3 linked regions of the Homo sapiens genome follow. The protein of the gene in region 1 interacts with the protein of each later gene in a biochemical or structural test. Each region holds a gene or a part of one and is shown on either strand. Other genes may lie near its edges.

What was found.
Region 2: the proteins of CYTH1 (region 1) and INAVA form a complex in vitro, tested with the Homo sapiens proteins (one study listed by BioGRID).
Region 3: the proteins of CYTH1 (region 1) and IPCEF1 form a complex in vitro, tested with the Homo sapiens proteins (one study listed by BioGRID).

The regions. Positions count from the first base shown.
Region 1 is NC_000017.11:78,771,693-78,779,626, forward strand, and holds part of CYTH1 (cytohesin-1), read right to left. Parts: intron 1-7,934. UniProt on the Homo sapiens protein: Promotes guanine-nucleotide exchange on ARF1, ARF5 and ARF6. Promotes the activation of ARF factors through replacement of GDP with GTP.
Region 2 is NC_000001.11:200,889,658-200,898,422, forward strand, and holds the start of INAVA (innate immunity activator protein), read left to right. Parts: upstream 1-5,242; 5' UTR 5,243-5,430; intron 5,431-8,649; coding exon of another isoform or gene 8,650-8,743; coding exon 8,744-8,765. UniProt on the Homo sapiens protein: Expressed in peripheral macrophages and intestinal myeloid-derived cells, is required for optimal PRR (pattern recognition receptor)-induced signaling, cytokine secretion, and bacterial clearance.
Region 3 is NC_000006.12:154,153,473-154,158,214, forward strand, and holds the end of IPCEF1 (interactor protein for cytohesin exchange factors 1), read right to left. Parts: 3' UTR 1,024-4,742; downstream 1-1,023. UniProt on the Homo sapiens protein: Enhances the promotion of guanine-nucleotide exchange by PSCD2 on ARF6 in a concentration-dependent manner.

The DNA.
Region 1 (7,934 bases):
TGCACTCCAGCCTGGTGACAGAGCGAGATTCCATCTTAAAAAAAAAAAAAAAAAGAAAGAAAAGAAAAGGTGGAAAATATAAAGACTTGGATAAGGAAGGTATTATCCTGGCCCTTACTATAAAATTCAGTCACTAAAGAAAGCAGCTAATAACCATCTCACTACCATAAAAGCAGAAATATACAATGTCACGCTATCCTGGATAATGAGGAGTCATAGAAATCCCCTACATACCCTTCACTGCTTTTGTGTTTTTCTGAAGTTAATGCAAACAGAGAAGCAAAACAACATTACCAGCAGTTTCAGAGGATGTGGGATTCACTTCTTGATCATTTCTAAATAATTTTCCACCTCCTCCATGCCTCTATGATTGCAACTGAAACTAAATTGCAACAATAATTAGAGACAATCAAGTAGTGTGGCAACGGAGCAAATGGACAGGTTCAGGCAAAGTTCTTTTCTTTAGAAGCCCACTCTGAAGACTTTCATCTTGGAGAGGAGAGCAGGAAAGGTGTGGAACAATAACAGGAAAGCAGACTCGACCAGACTCGACACGGCTCTCAAGTTGAAGTCTTCCACCGGTCCAGCACAATACACAGAGATGTTTCATCCCTTTCATCTCTCCTGTTCCAAATGACCTATGATGTGTGCCCCCCATACTTGAAATAAGAAGGCAATCTTCTAATTCTTACTATAGAATAAGTGTCCTAACTGATCGTGAATGCAAGAAATACTGAAGAAAAAATCTGTTTGACATAATCTCTTTTGATTAACACATGGAACATTTAGAAAGGAGCAGGTATGAGCCATAAGATTCCAGAAACTGAAGTGTTTTGTTTTGTTTCGTTTTTGTTTTTGTTTTTTGAGATGGAGTCTCACTCTGTCGCCAGGCTGGAGTGCAGTGGCGCGATCTCGGCTCACTGCAACCTCCGCCTCCCAGGTTCAAGCAATTCTCCTGCCTTAGCCTCCTGAATAGCTGAGACTACAGGCGTGCACCACCACACCCAGCTGATTTTTTTATTTTTATTAGAGACAGAGTTTCACAATGTTGGCCAGGATGGTCTCGATCTCTTGACCTCATGATCCGGCCACCTTGGCCTCCCAAAGTGTTGGGATTACAGGCGTGAGCCACCACACCTGGCCTGTTTTGTTTTTGAGACATGGTCTCACTCTGTTGCCCAGGCAGGAGTACAGTGGCACGATCTCAGCTCACTGCAACCTCCGCCTCCCAGGTTCAAGCGATTCTAGTGACTCAGCCTCTTGAGTAGCTGGGATCACAGGCAGGCACCACCACACCCGGCTAATTTTTTTTTGTATTTTAGTAGAGATGGGTTTTCACCATGTTGCCCAAGCTGCTCTTGTACTCCTGAGCTTAAGCGATCTGCCCACCTCGACCTCCCAAAGTGCTGGGATTACAAGCATGAGCCACCATGCCCAGCCTGAAACTGAACAGTTTATCATTATAACCCAGACCAATACAATCTGTTTAATTCACAGGAAGGTGTGGTGGCTCATGCCTGTAATCCTAGTACTTTAGGAAGCCAAGGCAGGAGAATCACTTGAGGCCAGGAGTTCAAGACCAGCCTGGGTAACACAGTGAGACCCTGCTCTATTTAATTAAAAGAAAAATTATAGTTTCAAAAAAAAAATCTACTGGCCAGGAGCGGTGGCTCACGCCTGTAATCCCAGCACTTTGGGAGGCCGAGGCGGACGGATCACCTGAGGTCAGGAGTTTGAGGCCAGCCTTACCAACATGGTGAAACCCCATCTCTACTAAAAATACAAAAATCAGCAGGGCATGGTGGCGTGCGCCTGTAATTCCGCTACTCAGGAGGCTGAGGCACAAGAATTGCTTGAACCCGGGAGGCAGATGTTGCAGTGAGCCGAGATTGTGCCACTGCACTGCAGCCTGGGCGACAGAGCAAGACTCCATCTCAAAAAAAAAAAAAAAATTAAATTAAATTAAATTTTCTAAAAATCTATTTAATTCACAATTTCTTCTCGTAAGGAAACATTTTGTAGTTGGCCAGAAGACAATATATGGGTTGAGAGATCTTTCATCTTTAAAAGAAAAATTAAAAGAAAGGTAAACGACTGTTACAATTAGCCAAAATCTAACCTAAACCCCAGTCAAAACTGATACACATTTTCCCCATGCTTAAAACAGTGACAAAAACCTGTAAATCACTTTATTTGATAGAAAAGAGTTAACCTAAGTTAAGTAAATAAACCATCATTTCTTATGATGTAGCCAGTTCATAATACACAAATATGCAAAATAAAAATTTTTTTCAATCCAGCTAGTGATCAGTAGATTTAATAAGTCACCATTTTGTAACCACCAAATTCAGTTTGTTTGCTTGTTTGTTTTAAAAAAAAACTTTTAAAATGTTGATCCTCACTGAGGGCACATTTGCACTATTACAGGTACGTGTACTGATACATTGCTAAGAAAAGAGTAAATTGGTGCAGCCCTTTTGGAAAAAGTTGGCACCAGACATCAAGAATTCTAAAAATGTTTATACTCTGACATGTTCATGTCACCCTGAGAATATATCTTAAAGACCACAAAGTGTGTATAATTATGGCAACCTTATGTTCCAGATTTTCTAAGAAGGTGTTCACTGTAAATAATTGTGTTCTTTTCAATAAAGGCAAATCAGTAAGTTAGTAACTAAGTTTGAGAATAATGGAAGTCATCCATATCATAGAAAAACAAAGAAAACGGGTTCTGCATGGGGTCAAACATGCACAGAAGTGTTCTGGTTTCTGTTTGAAATGGAGAGTTGAGGAAAAAAACTCAAACTCACCACATATTAACTTTTTACAAGATGGAACTTGGTTCAATCCATTATTCCCTCCACAGTTGCTGAGCTGCCTCTGTAGGGCCCCAGGCACCATGCCTATTCTGGAGACATGGTGATGAAAAGGCAAATCTTTCTTAAATGCAACAGGCTCCTCTCCCCAGCCCGCAGCAGCACCCAGACATGCCAGTGCCCAGACCTTATTTTTCTTGTTGAATCTTCTCACCACCCACACACAGGTCTCCATGGTACAGCATGACAGCTCTTCCTATAATTCTGATATAAATCCTCCTTTTATCCAGAGTCTTTGGTCACAAACCGTAATACATACATGTGAAATGTTCCCAAATCTTGAGTAGACACTCAAGATTATGCCTGTGAGAAAACTCCTTTCCATGAAAACACAGAAGAAACTACTCTCTTTTCTTATCAAACCCCCGAAGTACCCACCAGGGCATTCGGCATGGGAAATCGGGTTAGAACTGCCGCAAGGCACTGCTCCCTCAGACAGCCCACCACCTGTGGCTGGCATAACGGCCCTGGACTTGCTGCCTGCTTTCCCTCTGTGCCACTAGGCACCCACCCCTGCAGTCACCCCAGCTCCCGAGGCATCACACCATCCACAGACCACAGGGTTAGTCCTCCTGAGGTCCCTCTGTGTGTTATGACACCACACCTAACCCGGCACAGAAACCAGGCTGAACACCCTGACAGTCTCCTGTGGCCCATGAAGATTGGGGGGGCCGCTGGGGGTTAGGGGAAGAGGAGAGATGGAAGGAAGTTACTAATTAAGAGTGATCTTGAAAGCCTCGGGTGCTAAGGGTCTTTTTTCTTTTTACCCCTGTCCTGAGTATTCCCTTATATCCTTCCCTCAAAGGCCAAAGCTAGAGACAGCAGATACGTTTTTATGCAATTGGACCTCAATGCTTCTCGAAATATGCGAATGAACAACTTTCTTGAATGTCTTACCCCACCACTCTTCCTCTACAGAGAAAGTGAAACCTCGTTTTTTTAATTCTTGCTGAAAACACTGCTATTTTAACTTGAAATTTGTTCTTTCTTGTTTTAGATAATGAATTAGTTCTACCTTTCCTGCTTTAGATAATCAATCTGGGAACTCAATGTAAAAATTACATCAAAGGCAAATAAAAAGTAAGGTATTTCAGAAGCTGAATAAGTAAAGGACATTTGCAGACGTCTCTTCCTTTTCATTTGAAAACTCACCTAAAAATTATTTTAAAATTCTCTGTTGACAACTTCCCTAATTGAAGCTAACTTCTTGAAAGGAACAAAAATAAGACATGCATTTGCTATAATGAACATGATAGACTCCAGCAACTTTCATTTTAAATGTTTATATAGAAATTATGCTTAAAGGCCAGGCACGGTGGCTCATACCTGTAATCCCAGCACTTTGGGAGGCTGAAGTGGGCAAATCACCTGAGGTCAGGAGTTTGAGATCAGCCTGGCCAACATGGTGAAACCTCGTCTCTACTAAAAATACAAAAATCAGCCGGGTGTGGTGGCACATGCCTGTAATCCCAGCTACTTGGGAAGCTGAGACAGGAGAATCACTTGAACCCAGGAGGCAGAAGTTGCAGTGAGCTAAGATCACGCCACTGCACTTCAGCCTGGGAAACAGAGTAAAACTCTGTCTCAACAACAAAAAAAAGAAATTATGCTTAAAAAGGAAGTTCATAATTGAATCACGGCAACTGCAGTCATTAGCCCCAAAATGATGACCATTACAGAGCAACAGGATGAACATACTCTCTGGAAAATCCCGCAAATACTCCCTTAAAGTGCATTATATGTGGTTTTCTGTTTACAACCCTGAACATTATTACACAGAAATATATACTGGCAACAGTACACACAAGCCAGGCGCAATGGCTCACACCTGTAATCCCGGCACTTTGGGAGGCTGAGGCGGGCAGATCATTTGAGGTCAGGAGTTCGAGACCAGCCTGGCCAACATGATGAAACCCCATCTCTACTAAAAATACAAAACAATTAGCTGAGCGTGGTAGCACACGCCTGTTGTCCCAGCTACTCAGGAGGCTGAGGCACGAGAATCGCTTGAACCCGGGAGGCAGAGGGTGCAGTAAGCCAAGATCGTGCCACTGGACTCCAGGCTGGACAACAGAGCGAGACTCTGTCTCAAAAAAAAAAAAAAAAAAAAGTACACACAGTATGCATGTTATAAAGAAAATGTATGCAAAATTTAATTTTTACGATTTTTTTCTTTTTCCTGAGCAGAATAGTATTTTCTTAAGTTAATGGTTTGTCTGGTGGGACTCCACAGTGCCATAAACAGTTTTTTTTTTTTTAAAAAAAGAAACCAATAGGCCAGGTGCAGTGGCTCACACCTGTAATCCCAGCACTTTGGGAGGCCTAGGCAGGGGGATCACCTGAGGTCGGGAGTTCGAGACCAGCCTGACCAACATGGAGAAACCCTGTCTCCAGTAAAAATACAAAATTAGCCAGGCGTGGTGACGCATGCCTGTAATCCCAGCTACTTGGGAGGCTGAGGCAGGAGAATTGCTTGAATCTGGGAGGCGGAGGTTGCGGTGAGCCGAGATCGCCCCATTGCACTCTAGCCTGGGCAACAAGAGTGAAACTCTGTCTCACAAAAAAAAAAAAATAAGGCCGGGCGCGGTGGCTCACGCCTGTAATCCCAGCACTTTGGGAGGCGGATGGATCACGAGGTCAGGAGATCGAGACCATCCTGGCTAACATGGTGAAACGCCGTCTCTACTAAAAATACAAAAATTTAGCCGGGTGTGGTGGCGGGTGCCTGTAGTCCCAGCTACTCAGGAGGCTGAGGCAGGAGATGGTGTGAACCCAGGAGGCAGAGCTGGCAGTGAGCCGAGATTGCGCCACTGCACTCTAGCCTGGGCAACAGAGCAAGACTCCGTCTCAAAAATAAATAAATAAAAATAAATAAATTAAATAAATAAACAAACCAGTAAAGATATATCCCACACAGGTGTAGTCTGAACCAAACTGTCCCTATCTAATGAATACAAAAGAGTACTGGAACTGAGAAAGCCTTTTTGTTGGTTTTTGAAATTGTCTTTAATTGGACAGAGAAACTCTAAGACTCTCTTTCTATAGCATATTATCAATGAGCTATGTTCCAAAAGTTTTTTAATACTAAAAGGTAGCCAGGAAATTACAATGCATTTCCCTCCAGAAAGAATTCTAAAGCCGGGCGCGGTGGCTCACACCTGTAATCCCAGCACTTTGGGAGGCTGAGGCGGGCAGATCACGAGGTCAGGAGATCGAGACCATCCTAGCTAACATGGTGAAACCCCATCTCTATTAAAAATACAAAAAAAAAAAAAAAGAAAGAATTCTAAAAACAGTGGTACCTGTCCTAGGCTGATTCACAAAACGTTACCAACTTACGCAGCAGGGACAGGGACAGGGACAGAGGAAGCACTGTTGAAAACAGCGCACACACAAAGTTAACACCACAAGAAATGTTTCTCATTATTCTGAAAATCAAATATTAAGGTTTAGGCTGGGCTTGGTGGCTCAGGCCTGTAATCCTAGCACTTTGAGAGGCTGAAGCAGGCAGATCAATTGAGGTCAGGAGTTCAAGACCAGCCTGGCCAACATGGGGAAACCCCATCTTTACTAAAAATACAAAAATTAGCCAGACATGATAGCATGTGCCTGTAGTAACCCCTACTCAGAAAGCTGAGGGAGAATCGCATGAACCCAGGAGGTGGAAGCTGCAGGGAGCTAAGACTGTGCCACCACACTCCAGCCTGGGTGACAGAACAAGACTGTCTCAAAAAAAAAAAAAAAAAAAAAAAGGGAAAAAAAATTAAGGTTTAAAAAGTTTATTTAGGGCCGGGCGTGGTGGCTCACGCCTGTAATCCCAGCACTTTGGGAGGCCAAGGCAGGTGGATCACTTGAGGTCAGGAGTTTAAGACCAGCCTGGCCAATATGGTGAAACCCCATTTCTACTAAAAACACAAAAATCAGCCGGGTGTGGTGGCAGGTGCCTGTAATCCCAGCTACTTGGGAGGCTGAGGCAGAAGAATCACTTGAACCCAGCAGGCAGAGGTTGCAGTGAACCAAGATTGCGTCACTGCATTCCAGCCTGGGCAACACAGTGAGACTCCATCTCAAAAAAAAAAAAAAAAAAAAAAAAGAAAGAAAAAGTTTAATTAGGCCTGGCACAGTGACTCAACCCAACACTTTCAGAGGCCAAGGCGGGAGGATGGTTTTAGACCAGCCTGCGCAACATAGTGAGACTCTGCAACTATTTAAAAAATAATAATAATAAAAAGTTTGTTTAAAAGAAAACAATGGAAGTTCTGAGGTGACGTCTGAACACGTCATGTTATATGCTTTATGAATCCATCACACACATTTCCTTTTACAATGTGGGATCTGGTCAAGGTAAATTCTCTGTGAAACCTATGAGGGAAATGGACAGTTCTGGAGACTAACACAAACCTTAAAGAACTTGGGAGTCTTATTCTTCATATGATCATCTTACACCATCAGGTACTTTTTGTGTGGTGACCCTCTGGGTGGGGAATCTTCAATCTTTTTAGTTCCTCCAAAATAAAAGGATGATATTTAAAACTGTAGAAAGGGGAACAGGCCAGGCGGGGTGGTTCATGCCTGTAATCCCAGCACTTTGGGAGGCTTAGGCAGGCAGATCACCTGAGGTCAAGAGTTTGAGACCAGCCTGGACAACACAGAGAAACCCTGTCTCTACTAAAAATACAAAATTAGCCAGGCGTGGTGGCGCATGCCTGTAATCCCAGCTACTCAGGAGGCTGAGGCAGGAGAATCGCTTGAAGCTGGGAGGCAGAGGTTGCAGTGAGCCGAGATTGCGCCATTGCACTCCAGCCTGGGCAACAAGAGTGAAACTCCATCTCAAAAAAAAAAAAAAAAAAAAAAAGAAAGGGGAAGAATAAACTTACAAACTTTCTCATCTTCGTGTGTGGCAGACAGAATAACAGCCCCTAAAGAAGTCCGGGTACTAATCCCCAGAACTTGTGAATAGGTTACCTTACATGGCAGAAGGGGAATTAAGGTAACAGATGGAATTAAGGTTGCTAATCCTTAGCCTTGATTATCCAGGTGGGTCCCACTATAATCACA
Region 2 (8,765 bases), on another chromosome or scaffold:
GATTAATTCAAGTAGCTTCTCTTCAACTTCAGTATAAAAATCTTAAATCCTCACCTAGCCCACAAGGCTCTTAGTCATCTTACCTCATATAATGCCTTTGTACAAATTAGAAAAAGCCACCCTCTCTAGGCAGATACAGCTCTGACCAAACATAGGGCGAGGTGGGTGGAGAATGGTGAACCTTCCCTCTTAGTATAGTGCACAACCTGGACAACCACATGGAGTTGCCTTACTTTTGTTTGTTTGTTTGTTGTGTGTGTGTGTTTTTAATTGAGACAGAGTCTCGCTCTGTCACCCAGGCTGGAGTGCAATGGAGTGATCTTGGCTCACTGCAACCTCTGCTGCATGGGTTCAAGTGATTCTCATGCCTCAGCCTCCTGAGTAACTGGGACTACAGGCTCCCAGCACCATGCTCGCTAATTTTTTTTGTATTTTAAGTAGAGATGGGGTTTTGCCATGTTGCCCAGGCCATTCTTGAACTCCCGACCTCAGGCGATCCGTCCGTATTGGCCTCCGAAAGTGCTGGGATTACAAGCGTGAGCCACCGCGCCTGGCCGTTCGTTGTGGGTTTTTTGTTGTTGTTGTTGTTTTGAGACAAGGTCTTGCCCTGTCTCCCAGGCCGGAGTGTAGTCTCGGGATATTGGCTCACTGCAACCTCCGCCTCCCTGCTCAAGTGATCTTCCCACCTCAGCCTCCCAAGTAGCTGGGACTACAGGTGCGTGCCACCACTCCTGGCCAATTTCTTTATTTTTTGGTAGAGACAGGTTTTCACAATGTTGCCCAGGCTGATCTCCAACTCCTGACCTCAGTCGATCCTCTGGCCTGGGCCTCCCAAAGTGCTGGGATTATAGGCGTGAGCCTCTGCGTCTGGCTGCCCTGCTTCTGGATGAGCCACTGACTGACGAATTAGCCTCGTCTCTCTTCCATGTTCTTTCCCTTTACTCCTTCCTCATCCCAAACCCTAACCTCCCTGCAGCTCCTGGAACCTGCTGTGCTCCCTTGCTGCTGTGCTTTTGTACACCTGTCACTGCTGTTTCAAGTCCCTCTCTTATTTTCTGGTATTGCTTCCTCTGGCCAAGTTTTGCCGAGGCTCAGCCTGGGTCAGCCTTCCCTCTTCTTGCCCGGGGTCCTAGCCCTTACTTCAGGTACTGTGCTGCTTCATCACTCGTCTAGATTGGAGAATCCTCCAGTGAATGGGGCTTGAGCTTTGATCCATCGTGCTGGGCACTAGTAGGTGCTCAATAAATGTTTATTGAACAACTGAAAACCGGGAAGTGAATGAATGGATGAACGGGGACACAGCAGCTCGCAGCGGGCAGCAGGAGGCGCTCGCCGGGAGGGTGCTCCTTCCCTTCAGCCAGCCGGAGTTCAGCCAGCGGGCCCGGCGGGAGGAGTGGGAGTGGGCCGGGGCCAGGGCCGGGGAGAGGGGCCATCCCCGCGCGACCCGCAGCGCCGCACAGCGAGGGGGAGGGCGCCTGCGGGGAGGACAGGGTCGGGGGAGCGCCCTTCCGCAGGCTCCTTTCATTCTTCCACTTAGGGGTCTCCAGGAATGAAAACTGGCCCCAGCCAGGCCAGAGCGCGCGAATGAAAGGCGGCACTGGGACCAAGAGAGAAGCTTCGTCCCGCCTGGGCTGCGGAAACTGGCGGCGCCAGGGGTGTCCCACCGCGCGGGCGTCCGAAAGCGGGGCAAAGGGGACAGCCTCGCCCCTCGAGCGGCTGCTCCCGCAGCTCGCTCACCCCTGCGGGTACGTCGTCACTCCCGCGTGCGGCCCCGTCCCGACTCTTGGATCGGACTCTTCAGTCCCTTCTTGCGTCTTCCCCTCTTTCCTCTGGGCCTTGGTATGCCCCAGGGGACAGATGTCTTGGGATCTTTAACATTTGGGATGCTGCAAATGCCGAAGTTAAATGAAATACCTCCGGGGAGGGCAGGCCGCAGGGAGGCTCGGGGGGAGGGAAGATGGCCTGGACAAACAGGTCCTGAAGCTGCGAGGCTGGAGTGGAGGGCGCAGGGGCAGGCGGGCGGCGCCAGAGCTCCATGGGACAGGTAAGCGGGAAAACTTCGGGGCACCCAGTGCGGGTGAACTGGGGCGGGGGATCGGGCCCCTGAACCCACGGTCTTCAGCCTTAGCGGAGGGTGCCCTACAGGGAATGGGGTAATTTTTTCAAAGGGGCAGGAATTCTGAGTTCCTACCAAAAATGCACATTTCCAGTCCCTCAACCTTTCTCCTTCGACCTTCTTCGTGCCTGTGGATCTTCCTGGCCAGGTTCCGGGAAGCCAGAAAGCAGCCAAACAAAAGGAGCAAAGTCTCGGGCCAGCCTGGATGTGGAGGGCGCAGTGGGGGAGGGGAGCAGGGTGGACAGGACAAAGGGGCTTTTTAGAGAAAGCCTAGAGGTCTCATTTCAGGGCGCATTCCAAGCTGGCTTGGAGTTCCCCTGTCCCAGCCCACTTCACCTTTGCTTAGTGGAGGCGAACACCTTTCCTAGTGAGCAGGGAGCAGACGCGAGTAAGAAAACAGTGAAGGAACCATCTCCTACCCCTCTTGCCTGGAGGGTCCCGGGCTATTTCACTTCTTCCTTTTTTCACTGTTGTCTCTAGCGCTGGCCATTGATTCCTTAATTCTTGAAGTAAGATTTTAGCAGTGCCTGAGACTACTTTGCTGGGGGCTGTTGGGGATGTGAAGATGGTAGGACGAGGCCCTTGCTTTAAAGAACTTCCAATCTGGTGTTATCAGAAGACCCTAAAAGAAGGAACTTTTTTTTAAAAAAAATGGAGAGTGGATGGCTACAGCGCTGGGGAAGAGTTTTCTGACTCGGGACTTTTCCTCAGGAAACGAAAACACTGAAGAGGTCCAGTTTCTCTTCCCTGGGGAAGGGCTCTTGTCTGCAAAGATCAGATTCCAAGTACTATAATGTTTTGCAAGGAAATACCACTTCCTCACCAACTGGTGGTCTGGACGGCACTCTGGGGTTTGGGGCTGGGGCATCAGTCCCCTGACTCCCCGGCCTGACTGGAGTGGGGAGCTGTTTCAGATTCCCAGCTGGCCTCTGGAGTGCCCACCTCCCCCATTGGTATTTTGAATTGAATGACATGGCCATCAGAGAGCTCCAAGGATGGCTCCCCGGGGTTCTTGGCAGGAGGTTTGGTTAGCCAGCTCCCTTCCAAACCTCAGATTCTGCAAGGTTGGGAAATATTGAGCGTGAATTTGGGGGAGCAAGGTGTTTTTGAGAATTCCAAAGGATCAATGCAAACAGTGAGATTGAGCATCTGTACTAACCTCCCCTGAAGTCAGAGATGGAGGATTACCTGAGGGCAGGGATTCTTAACTGGGTTCATTGGCATTAGGCATCTGTAGATGGAATTCAGAGGATGTGTAAACTAGGTGAGGCAAAAAAAGATATCATTGTTTTTCACCAACCTTTAACAGATTTTAACATCACCTTTAGTTATGAAGACAACAAATCACAGTAGCATTGGCAGTACCTGTGACTTTGCCATTAATAGAATTCATAGTTTCATATCACACTGCAGTCACAGCAGTCTTGAAATGTTGTTTACACTCAGCCCTTGTGTGAAATTACCCACTGCTAGACCCTGCTTAATGTTAATAAAGAAGCATATATATTGCTATGTTTTTATATTTTTAGAACTTTATTTCATATAATTGACTTTTTTAGTGATCTTCTTAATTTTATTTTATGCTCAAGAAATGTGAACTGTGAGCCAATTCACAGCTGGTAGAAACTTCCACCAACCCCCACCTGGAGCTGGAGATGGGCAAGGTGGAGGAAGGGCCGCTTATGCCCAGAGTCAACCCCTCTCTGTTTGACTTTGTAAGAAAGTGCCAAGCCTCTATGGGGAGGGACGGTGTGTCACGGAGGACTGGGGAAGGGCAGGGCTGCAGGCTCTTTGGGAGACCCAGAGAACAAGCTCCCAATGGGGCGGGGGGAGGAAGAACTGTCCCCTCTTAGGGCCCCTCAGCCTCAGCCTGGGCAGAAAATGAGGTGGTCAGCCTGGAGCACTCTGGGGCTAGCATTGTTTGGAAAAAGGGTGTGTACAGGAATGTGAAGGTGTGCTGGGTGTGTGTACCGGAGCAGTGGGGGATGCTGGGGGACTCCAGCCCCATGAGTTCCGCTCCACAGGAGATGCCTGGTGAAAGCAAACTTCCTCTGTCATCCCTGCACTTGGGGGTAGGGAGTGGGGACAGGACTTTTTAGGGGCTGGGGGAGGGGAAGCAATCCAGACATGTATTGAGGCACTGGAATCTGGGTCGGGGGAATGGTGGGAAGATCAGAGAGTGGGGGGAAAGGGAGGTGGTAAGATGAAGACTTGAGGGGTGCAGCCTGCTGGGGACAGGCCAGGCAACAGTCAGCGTTAGCTCTGCTTCCGCCTTGAAATAGGCTAGATTCCAGTTTCCCATTTGCTTGGGGGTCGGTGGGATGGGAGATCTTGAGGCTTATTTTTTATAGGAAATAAGTTCCATTTTGGTCTCTGGCTCCTTGCATTTGGGGAGTGGACTTAGGGTCTGGGGTCACAGTGGACCTCCTGTGGAGTAGGAAACAGGACTTGGGCTCAGGTCAGTGCCTGTCAGTGCCCCATGAACATGCGTTGCTGGGGGATGGATGTAAATAATCAACAGAGAAGTGATGGCCTCGATACCCTTGGGGGACAATGTCTGGGATAAAAAGAACAGCCTGATCCTCTCTCTCTAGGATTCTAGAACTTCTGCATATTGGAATTCCAGCTGCCTTGCCTGAGGTTTTAAAATCCTCACTCGGGAGAGATAAAACCCAGGCCTTGGTCTTCATTTCCATATGTGGGGAAGAGCAGTGACCCATCCCTGTCAGTTTGTAAATGTCCTGCTTGTTTTTTCCATGGACAGTGGACATTTCACCTTGCTTCCGGGGTGCTTAACAGGCCTCAATTTCTGGAAAGAGAAACTGAGGTCAAAGGAAGGCAGGGAGAGCCAGGGTCAGGACAGGAGGGCACGCAGGTACCTCACAGCTCAGAATGTTGTACTAGGGTCTCTTGAGGCCATGAAGACATGACTCTTGTTGTTGTCTTCTTTGGGGATTCCTCCATGGGAGCCCCTTTTTCCCTGCTACCCTCCTGCCCCCCGGAAGTGCAGAGGCCCAGGAGCTGCCTGCTGGCACCAGTTGCACGGGATTAGTTCAGGGAAGGACTTGCTCACCTGCTCCTCCCCTCTGACTCAAGTCATAACAAGTAACCTGGTTCCCCTGGCCCGGCAGCCTGGGAGGGACGGCAAGGTAGGCAGGTGAGCCGAGACGGACGGACGGCCAGCAGCTCCGTCAGCTGGAGAGAGAGCACAGGCCTGTGGCTTGGGAGACCCTGAGGCGACATGTGAGGGCCCTGAGCCCCCTGACTGGAAGCAGGGGCTGTTTTTCAACTCCTGGACTAAAGCCCAGAAGCAGGTGAGGGCGGGGGAGGTGGAATGGGTCTTTGGGGCTGAGAGCAGGCTGGCCTGGGAGTGGAGGAGCCCAAGCAGTGGCCATCACCCCCCTCCGACCCCCACCCCCGCCAGCCTATGTCTGGTGTGTAGGGATGACAGAGGGGTGCTGGTGGGCTTGGACGGGAGCCTGTTCTTGTGGTTGCCTAGGCCTTAGTTTCCACCAGAGGGAGAGCAAGCAGAGATGAGCTGGGACAGGCAGGCCTGAGACCTGGCTTTGGGGGACACACTTGGGATAGAGGAGGATCCCCCATGGCCCGGCCTGAGGGAAGGTGCTCTGGAGTTTCCCTCCCTCCCTCTGTGCCCCTTCTGGTCTCCTCTGCCTTTTTCTGGGGACATTGTTCAGCCGGGTGGGCTGCTTTTTAGGGCCCAGTACTGGAGCTTGAAGAGGCCCAGGAGGGATCCCTGTGTTAGGGAGGGGGTGGGGATGTTACCTGAACTGCCTTTATCTAAAAGCAATGCCTTAGACACTTAAGACTCATAGCCTCCTGGGTGGGGGTGGTGCCCTCGCTCTCACCTGTTGACTCTGGGGCAGGTTCCCTACAGCTGTGGAGGGCGGCCTCGGCAGAGGCAGATGTGAGGGTCCGCTATGTGGCTGTACGGGTTTCCTTCTTGGCCTGACATTGACCAAGAGGTCGAGATTCAGACCGGGGACCTGGAAAGGCTTTAGACACTGTGCAGTCTTTATTGTGCACAGGAGGAAAGGAAGCCCCGGGAGGCCTGGTGACTTCCCCAAGGTAGTACAGACCGCAGCAGAACCAAGCCTTGAGCCCACAGCCAGGGGCTCTGGGCATCTGACGCTGTTCTCTTTGCTCTACTTGGGGCAGCAAGTCATCCCAGAGAGGACCCAGCATCAGGCTGGGACCACTGGGAAGATCAGTGCCTCCCCTTTGATGCTGGCAGTCAGAGACTGGGCTGAGCTGGGAGAAGGGGAAGCTGGCGGAGACGGGAGGCGTGCTAAGGTACCCCTCTGTCCCTGTAAGTCCCCACTCCTCTGCAACAGTCTCAGAGCCCCTGAGAAGCAGGGGCTGAGTTGGCCCAACTTTCCAAGGCAACTACTTAGTGGTTAATAATTAATTAGCAAGCGTGACTAATTAATGGCTTCCCCTCCCACATTACTTCCTCCTCTGTGCAAAGCAGACACACTCAGCATGCTAGCTGAGACCACCTTGCTTCCTACCTCTGGCTGCACCCTGCTCTTGGCTTCTGGGGAGGGTGGGAGGATGGCTAGGGTGGGTGGGAAGGGGTGGGGGTGAGCTGCCTGCTCCTCTGTCCTGTTCTTATCTCTACGAGGGATAGAGTTTGGGACAGATGGACAGTGCAGAGCTAATAGTCATCCTAAGTATCCTGCGGGGTGGGGTTCCAGAATATATGGCCAATCTTTCAGAACTTTGGCATGTTTGCAAAGGCCTCCCATAAAGTTAAAAAAAATAATTCTCCCATGCATTCTCTAGACTTCCTTGAATAATTGAAATTCCAAAGTGCAAGGTACATGTTGCTTTCAGGGCTTTGTGTTTGATTGTTGCTGCCTGTGGTTGCTGTGTTGTTTATGTAGGTCTATAAAAGTTCTTGATCGTCCTGCTCTTATCATCTTGATGGGTGGAGAGGTATCACCAGGGACCTGGCTGACAGCAGTCCCCTCTCCCTGTTGGCCTTGCTTTGTTACCAGCTTTCCCAAGGCCGACTTTTCTGTCGTGTTGGCTGCCTGAGGAGGGGTGGAGCTCACCTCCCCCACCCTGCGGCCCCGCGCTCTGAGGAGGCAGGATAGGCTCCAGACAGAAACTCGGAAGGACTTTTGGACTCTTGCTCAATGGGCTGACTCAGTGAGGAGGTGGCTGAGCTCTCTTTCCAGACCCAACCACCTGCATGGGCTCCGCCCACCCCTCCCACCCCTGCTGCAGCCAGCAGCTGCCAGGCCCTGGCCAGCTGGGACCCCAACCAGGGGTGTGGGTTGGTGAGGAGGGAGAGGGGGTGGGCACAGGTGTTATCTGGGTGACTGGTCCCTAGCTGAGCCGACACAATGGGATGGCACCTGTACCACCCAAGTGTTCTCCACCCCGAAGCAGGCAGAGGAGCAGGTGATCTCCTTTCTGTCCTTGCACAGCTTCTGCTCTAGTCACTGCTTGCCCCTCTCCTGTCAACTCTTGGCAACCCTGATAGACACAGCCCTGGGTCTCCCCTGGCTGTGGGGTGTAGGGGATCTAGGCTGATTCCCCTTCAGTGGTCTCCCAGGAGTAATTGATGGCTTGAAAGTTGTTTGAGGGCTTTGGGACAGCTCTCTGGCATACAGTGGCTGCACATATCTGCAGATGATGTGAAGTTCAGAGTCCAGGGCGCCAATTCAGAGAGTGGGCGTCCTGGACTTCGGAGGCCCCAGACCAGGGCCTTGGCCATGTGCCTGCCCACTTCTTGAAGTGTCCTCAGCCACTGGGGCGTAGGACATGCCTCACACCTCCTGGGTTCTTGGGTTGAGGATAGCTGTGTCCCATAAAGATGTCTTCCCCTTCCTCCTTTCTTTTTTTTTTGGAGACGGGGTCTCTCTGTTGTCCAGGCTGGAGTGCAATGGCGTGAACATGGCTCACTGCAGCCTTGACTTCTCCAGGCTCAGGCAATCCTCCTGCCTCAGCCTCCTGAGTAGCTGGGACTACAGGTGCACACCACTATGCCCAGCTAAGTTTCATTTTGGAGAGATGGGGTCTAAGTTGTCCAGGCTGGTCTTGAACTCCTGGGCTCAAGCTATCCTTCTGCCTTGGTCTCCAGAAATGCTGGGATTACAGGCGTGAGCCACCATGCTGGGCTTCCTTCCTCCTTTCTTTGTTATCCCATCCCATTTTTTGTCCCCTTCCTTTTTATCCTGTCTCTGCTCTTTTCCTTCTTGCCCTTCTCCCCAGTCGAGCGGTTCTTGTGGCTACCACAGCTGTCGACCCCCTTAGGCCTAGAGGACTTTGGCCCAGAGGGGAGTTAGGCTGGGCCCCTGAGAGCCCACTGAGAACAGGGTTTGCTGGTGAGGCCCACAGCCCCTTCTCTAGGTCAGCACCCCCAGTGCCAGAATCTCCTGCCCCAGATGGTTCCTGAAGCACAGTCCTCCCTTCCACTCCCCTGCTCTCAAGCATCTATTCAGCTTTTTGTAACCAAGATGGTTCATATCTAGCTTTTTTGTTATTGTTCTCTTTTCTCTTTAAAGCTGGGGAAGCTCCAGGCTACCTACACAACCTGGCCCAGGCTGGTCACGGTGTCCCCCCTCCCTGCTCTGTGCCCTCTCCTTCCAGAAATCCACCATGGAGAGTAAGGATGAGGTCA
Region 3 (4,742 bases), on another chromosome or scaffold:
CAGGAGTTCAAGACCAGCCTGCCCAACACGGCGAAGTCCCGTCTCTACTGAAAATACGAAAAATTAGCCAGGAGTGATGACGGGTGCCTGTAATCCCAGCTACTCAGGAGGCTGAGGCAGGACAATCACTTGAACCCGGGAGGCGGAGGTTGCAGTGAGCCAAGATCACGCCACTGCACTCCAGCCTGCGCGACAGAGTGAAACTCTATCTCAAAAAAAAAAAAAAAAAGCCCCAGGAGGAGGCGAGGAGAGAAGGAAGGCACCAGGTGCAAGTTGCTGACACCGAAGCTGGAGGAAGAAGCTCAGAGACAAGCGAAGTGGGGCACCTGTAGCCCAGGGAGTGGGCAAAGAAATGGATTCTCCCCCAGAGCCTCCACAAGGAGTGCAACCTTCCTCGAACTGTGAGTTCACAAATTTGTTGAAGCTGCTCTATTTGTGGTAATTTGTTATATCAGGAATAGGAAATAATATGAGATTGTTCCCGAAATCAGGAAACGCATGGTGCCTATACCTTTTACTAATACCTTTGGTCTAAAATAATTTTTCCTGCTTCCATGTAGGAGCCTAGAAATATTTGGTGGTGGCAGGACAAAGAAGACAGAAGGTGGAGCTTGGCTTGTGAGGTGAGACTTGGGAGAGAGTCAGGAACAAAATGAAAACTGTGTGTGTAGACAGCAGTCAAGGAGCATGAATCAGTTCAAATGCAGGCTGATTCCCTCTGATCAGTGGATCCAAAGAAAGGCAATTTATTAGGCTATTTCATTATTTTCTTTGTTCATTTTCAAATAAATATCTCATATGTTTTAAGCAGCTTGTGTACCACATTTTGTAACTTTTATAATATGCAAATTTTAAAAATTCTTTAAACAAAATGTGGGTGCCTAGAAATAATAAGTAATACAATGTGCAAGTCAAATTTAGTGGTCCAATGGCAATTTTTGAAAAATCTAAATATTATTGTATTAATAAACCTGTAACTTGAGAACCACTGGAAAAGACCACATCGATTATTGTTGAAACAGATTTCCAATATAATTAGATCTTTTATTTAAAAATAAAAACAAGTCTAGAAGCGATTTTGATGACTGCCACCAGAGGGCACTGTAACCTTGTTGTAGACGATCAAAACGCAGCCATTAAACACTTCCAGCCACATGTTTATTTCTTTGAGAAAGCAACACTGCAGGACAAAAATGAACACCAGTAGTATATTTCAACTTTTTTTTCATGTCATTTGCCTAGATATATTTTTTTCTTATTTTTATTTTTATCTTACAAGTCAACCTCAAAAACATAAAGCAGGAGAGAAATGAGCCATGCCTCTTTTTCAGTTTAGAGGGGTAGCTGACACAGGATGAGAGCACAGTAAAACTTAAGCTAAGATTTCCACATTAATATCTTGCCCCCAAACACCATGCAGTGCTAAAAGTCACATTCCCATCATGCAAGCACATTAAAATATATGGCGATTAAAACTCCTGGTTTCTATTTTACGGCATTTGCTCTTTCCACGAGGCACACTTCCCTTTTGGGCTAAAGGTTAAAAAAAAAAAATTCAAATACAATGAAGAATCCATTATTTTCAATGTTTTCTATGTGGTTCTGGGGTCATGTGGGAAAGAACTGAGATGTGCTGAAGAGGCAAGGGAATTGCTTCCTGCCCCACGACACAGAGAAACGTGTGTCTGCTCAATGCCTCATTCAAGGAGACGAGTGGCTTTCTGTGAGGAGAGAAATTATCCCCCTTCCACAGTCCATTTCATACAGGCTGCAAACATTTAGTTTCAGGGACTTTTATTTTCAATTATGTATTACAAAACCCTGGGCAGGGCAGTCATCTCCCAGTTCTAGGATTCAATTTCTCCTGTGAGGTATACAAAAGAAATTGGAAGAGAAATAAATTGGAAAACCACAATTGGATATCATATTCTTGTTAGACTGAAGAAGAAATGCCCCCTAAAACTATGTGGATATGGCAGCTTTTCTGTACTTAACATTACTCATTAAATCATGTATGTGGCTATATCAAAATACTGTCTTTCGGCCAGGTGTGGTGGCTCACACCTGTAATCCCAGCACTCTGGGAGGCAGAGGCAGGCAGATCACCTGAGGTCAGGAGTTTGAAACCAGCCTGGGCAACATGGTAAACCCCGGTCTCTACTAAAAATATAAAAATTAGCCGGGCGTAGTCCCAGCTACTCGGGAGGCTGAGGCAGGAGAATCACTTCAACCAGGGAGGCAGAGGTTGCAGTGAGCTAAAATCGTGCCACTGCACTCCAGCCTGGGCAACAGAGCAAGACTCTGTCTAAAAAAAGAAAAAAAAAAGTATTTCTTACTAAGAGATAATGTACCTATGAATTTAAACATGTCTTAAATTTGAATAGCACTTCTTTTCAAAAGACTTAAAAATATTTTTTCTTTGAATCTGTTTCATCTCTGTGACATTGTTTGTGACTGGAGTGCTACCTGAGTAAATTATCATGATTACATGAAAAGCAATTAAGAGAAGAAGGTCAAAGGACCAACCTCTAATCACTAAGTTTGGTCTCTAACATTTGACAGCACATGCCTCAAAAAGCAAACAAAATAAACACTCTCCATTTCTTTAAATATATGTTTTTCATCCAAGGATCACACAGCACCTCCCAAGTAGTCTAATGTACAGAAAGAAAAGAAAGGAAACACAGCATGATTAGGTGAAACCCCAATCCATAGACAGCCCGCCAGCAGGTTGAGGCAGGACCACTAGGAGGAGACTGTGCTCAAGCACAGAGAGGGCCCTTTAGGTTTCAAATGGAGAATTTAGCCAAACAGCCACCAGGGCCAGCCGTATGCTAAGCCCAGTGCAATGAAACACACGCTCCCAGTCAAACTTCTTGGTTTCCTAGTGGGCTATGTGCCAACAGCAACTTCACAAGGTAACAGGTGAAGCGAGGTGGGGGGCGGAGAGGAGGAAATGGGCAGAGAGCCGCTGGGAGTCCTGAGACTCAAGTTCCTGCTTCATCACTGGGGGCTCCGGGCCAGGCACTTCACTGTAATAATCCACAATCATCTCAGAGCATGGGGCAGCGGGAGGGGGCTGAAAACACACCAATTTGCAAACTACAAAGTGCTGTGTAAATGTAAGGCATGGGTTTCACATTGAAATCTGACTCCAAACACAATCTCTTTCTTACGCTTCCTGGAGTCTTTGTAATCCTATACTTTAGGAGTCTTTCTAGGCCTTTGATCCTATTCTGAGATTTGAGCTGTTGTGGCAAAACTAAGAATTCTTTAAAGCAAAAGACGCCCTTGCAATGCAGGGCTCAGAGTGTCTATTTGCAATATATCAACCAGTGAAGGCATCACATCAGGCTCCGTTCTGGATCTACAGGCTAACAACAGAGGGAAAAGGTCCTCTTCACAACCCCAAAGAGGAGTCCTCTCCAAATCCTAATCTTTAGCAGGTGCCACAGATTTGGATCTACGTGTGCTGAGAGATTCTCCACTTCCTTCCTGAGCAGCCATGGTTTTCTCTCTCATTCCACAGCTCACAGACACTGCAGGACTGGGTATAGGAATTGGCCCTTGGACCCCAGGAAACTACCCCAAATGCATTTCAGAGATGACCCGGTCTCAAGAAATATACTGAAAGTAATCCAGTTTTCCCAATATTCTTTGGACCAGAAAAGTGGCTTGAGGCCAAGAGAGAGAAGCCCATGTCTTCCTACATTAAGTGTCACGGAAAGTGTCACCCACTCTCCCTCTCACTCCTGTCTATCCCCCCACCCACGTCTTAGTGGCCACAGCCTAGGCTGAGAACTCACAGAAGCAGCCCTACTTTCTAGCACAACCTGGTCAAAAGCAAAATAATTTACAGGGGGAAAAACACGAATGAGCAGGCAATGGGGCTCCAGAAAGCCAGGTGCAAAATTGTGAAGTTCAGTTTCCCTTTCACTTTGGGAAGCTCTGCAAAGTAAGCTTTAACTAGCAAAGCAAAAACTTCTAGGCTAATGTTCTTGACTTTGAAAAATAAATTTAAGCCTTGGCTAAGTAATCCCAGGGATCTTTTTTGCCTTAAGTTTCAATGGTACTAAAGGAGTTTACAGTTGAAAGGCTGGGGAAATATGTCTTCACGAAAAGCCAAAGGAAAGCATTCAAAGCTATTCACAAACCCTGCTCAAAAGTGTCTGGAGCTCTTCAATTTAAGAAAAACTGGAAGTCTACAGGCTGGTGTTGCAAACCAAAGAAAAATAGGTGGAAGGGCACTTTATGTCACACTGTTATTTCTGCTATTGTTATTTGTTGTTCCTTCAATACTCTTTACATTGCCAATCCTAAATAATTTCCCTTCTGGTATCTGCTAATCACAGAAAGAATCAGTAATTTCCAGGGGCAAAAGGTTAAAGCACTGCTTTCCTAAACCAGGGCATCAGGGTGCAATCTGAGGATCTGAATGTTCTCTCTGTCAGGTCACCACAGGTCAAACTCATCTTCAGTGGCTTCCCTAGGTGGAGAAGTACCCACATGTTTGCTGGGCCAAACTGACTGGCCTGGCCTCTTATCTTAGAGAAGTTTCTAGCAGTACAACTTGCTTCTTGTTTTTTGTTTTTATTTCTTAATGCTAAGGTTGTTTTTTGTTTGTTTGTTTGTTTACAGAGTATTAAGGCTTCTTAGTAAAGCTTGGGGAACTATTCAACAACTATTTCCATTTTGTTTGCAGATATAATTCAGGTGGTTCCTTCCATTTGAATGTCAAGCCA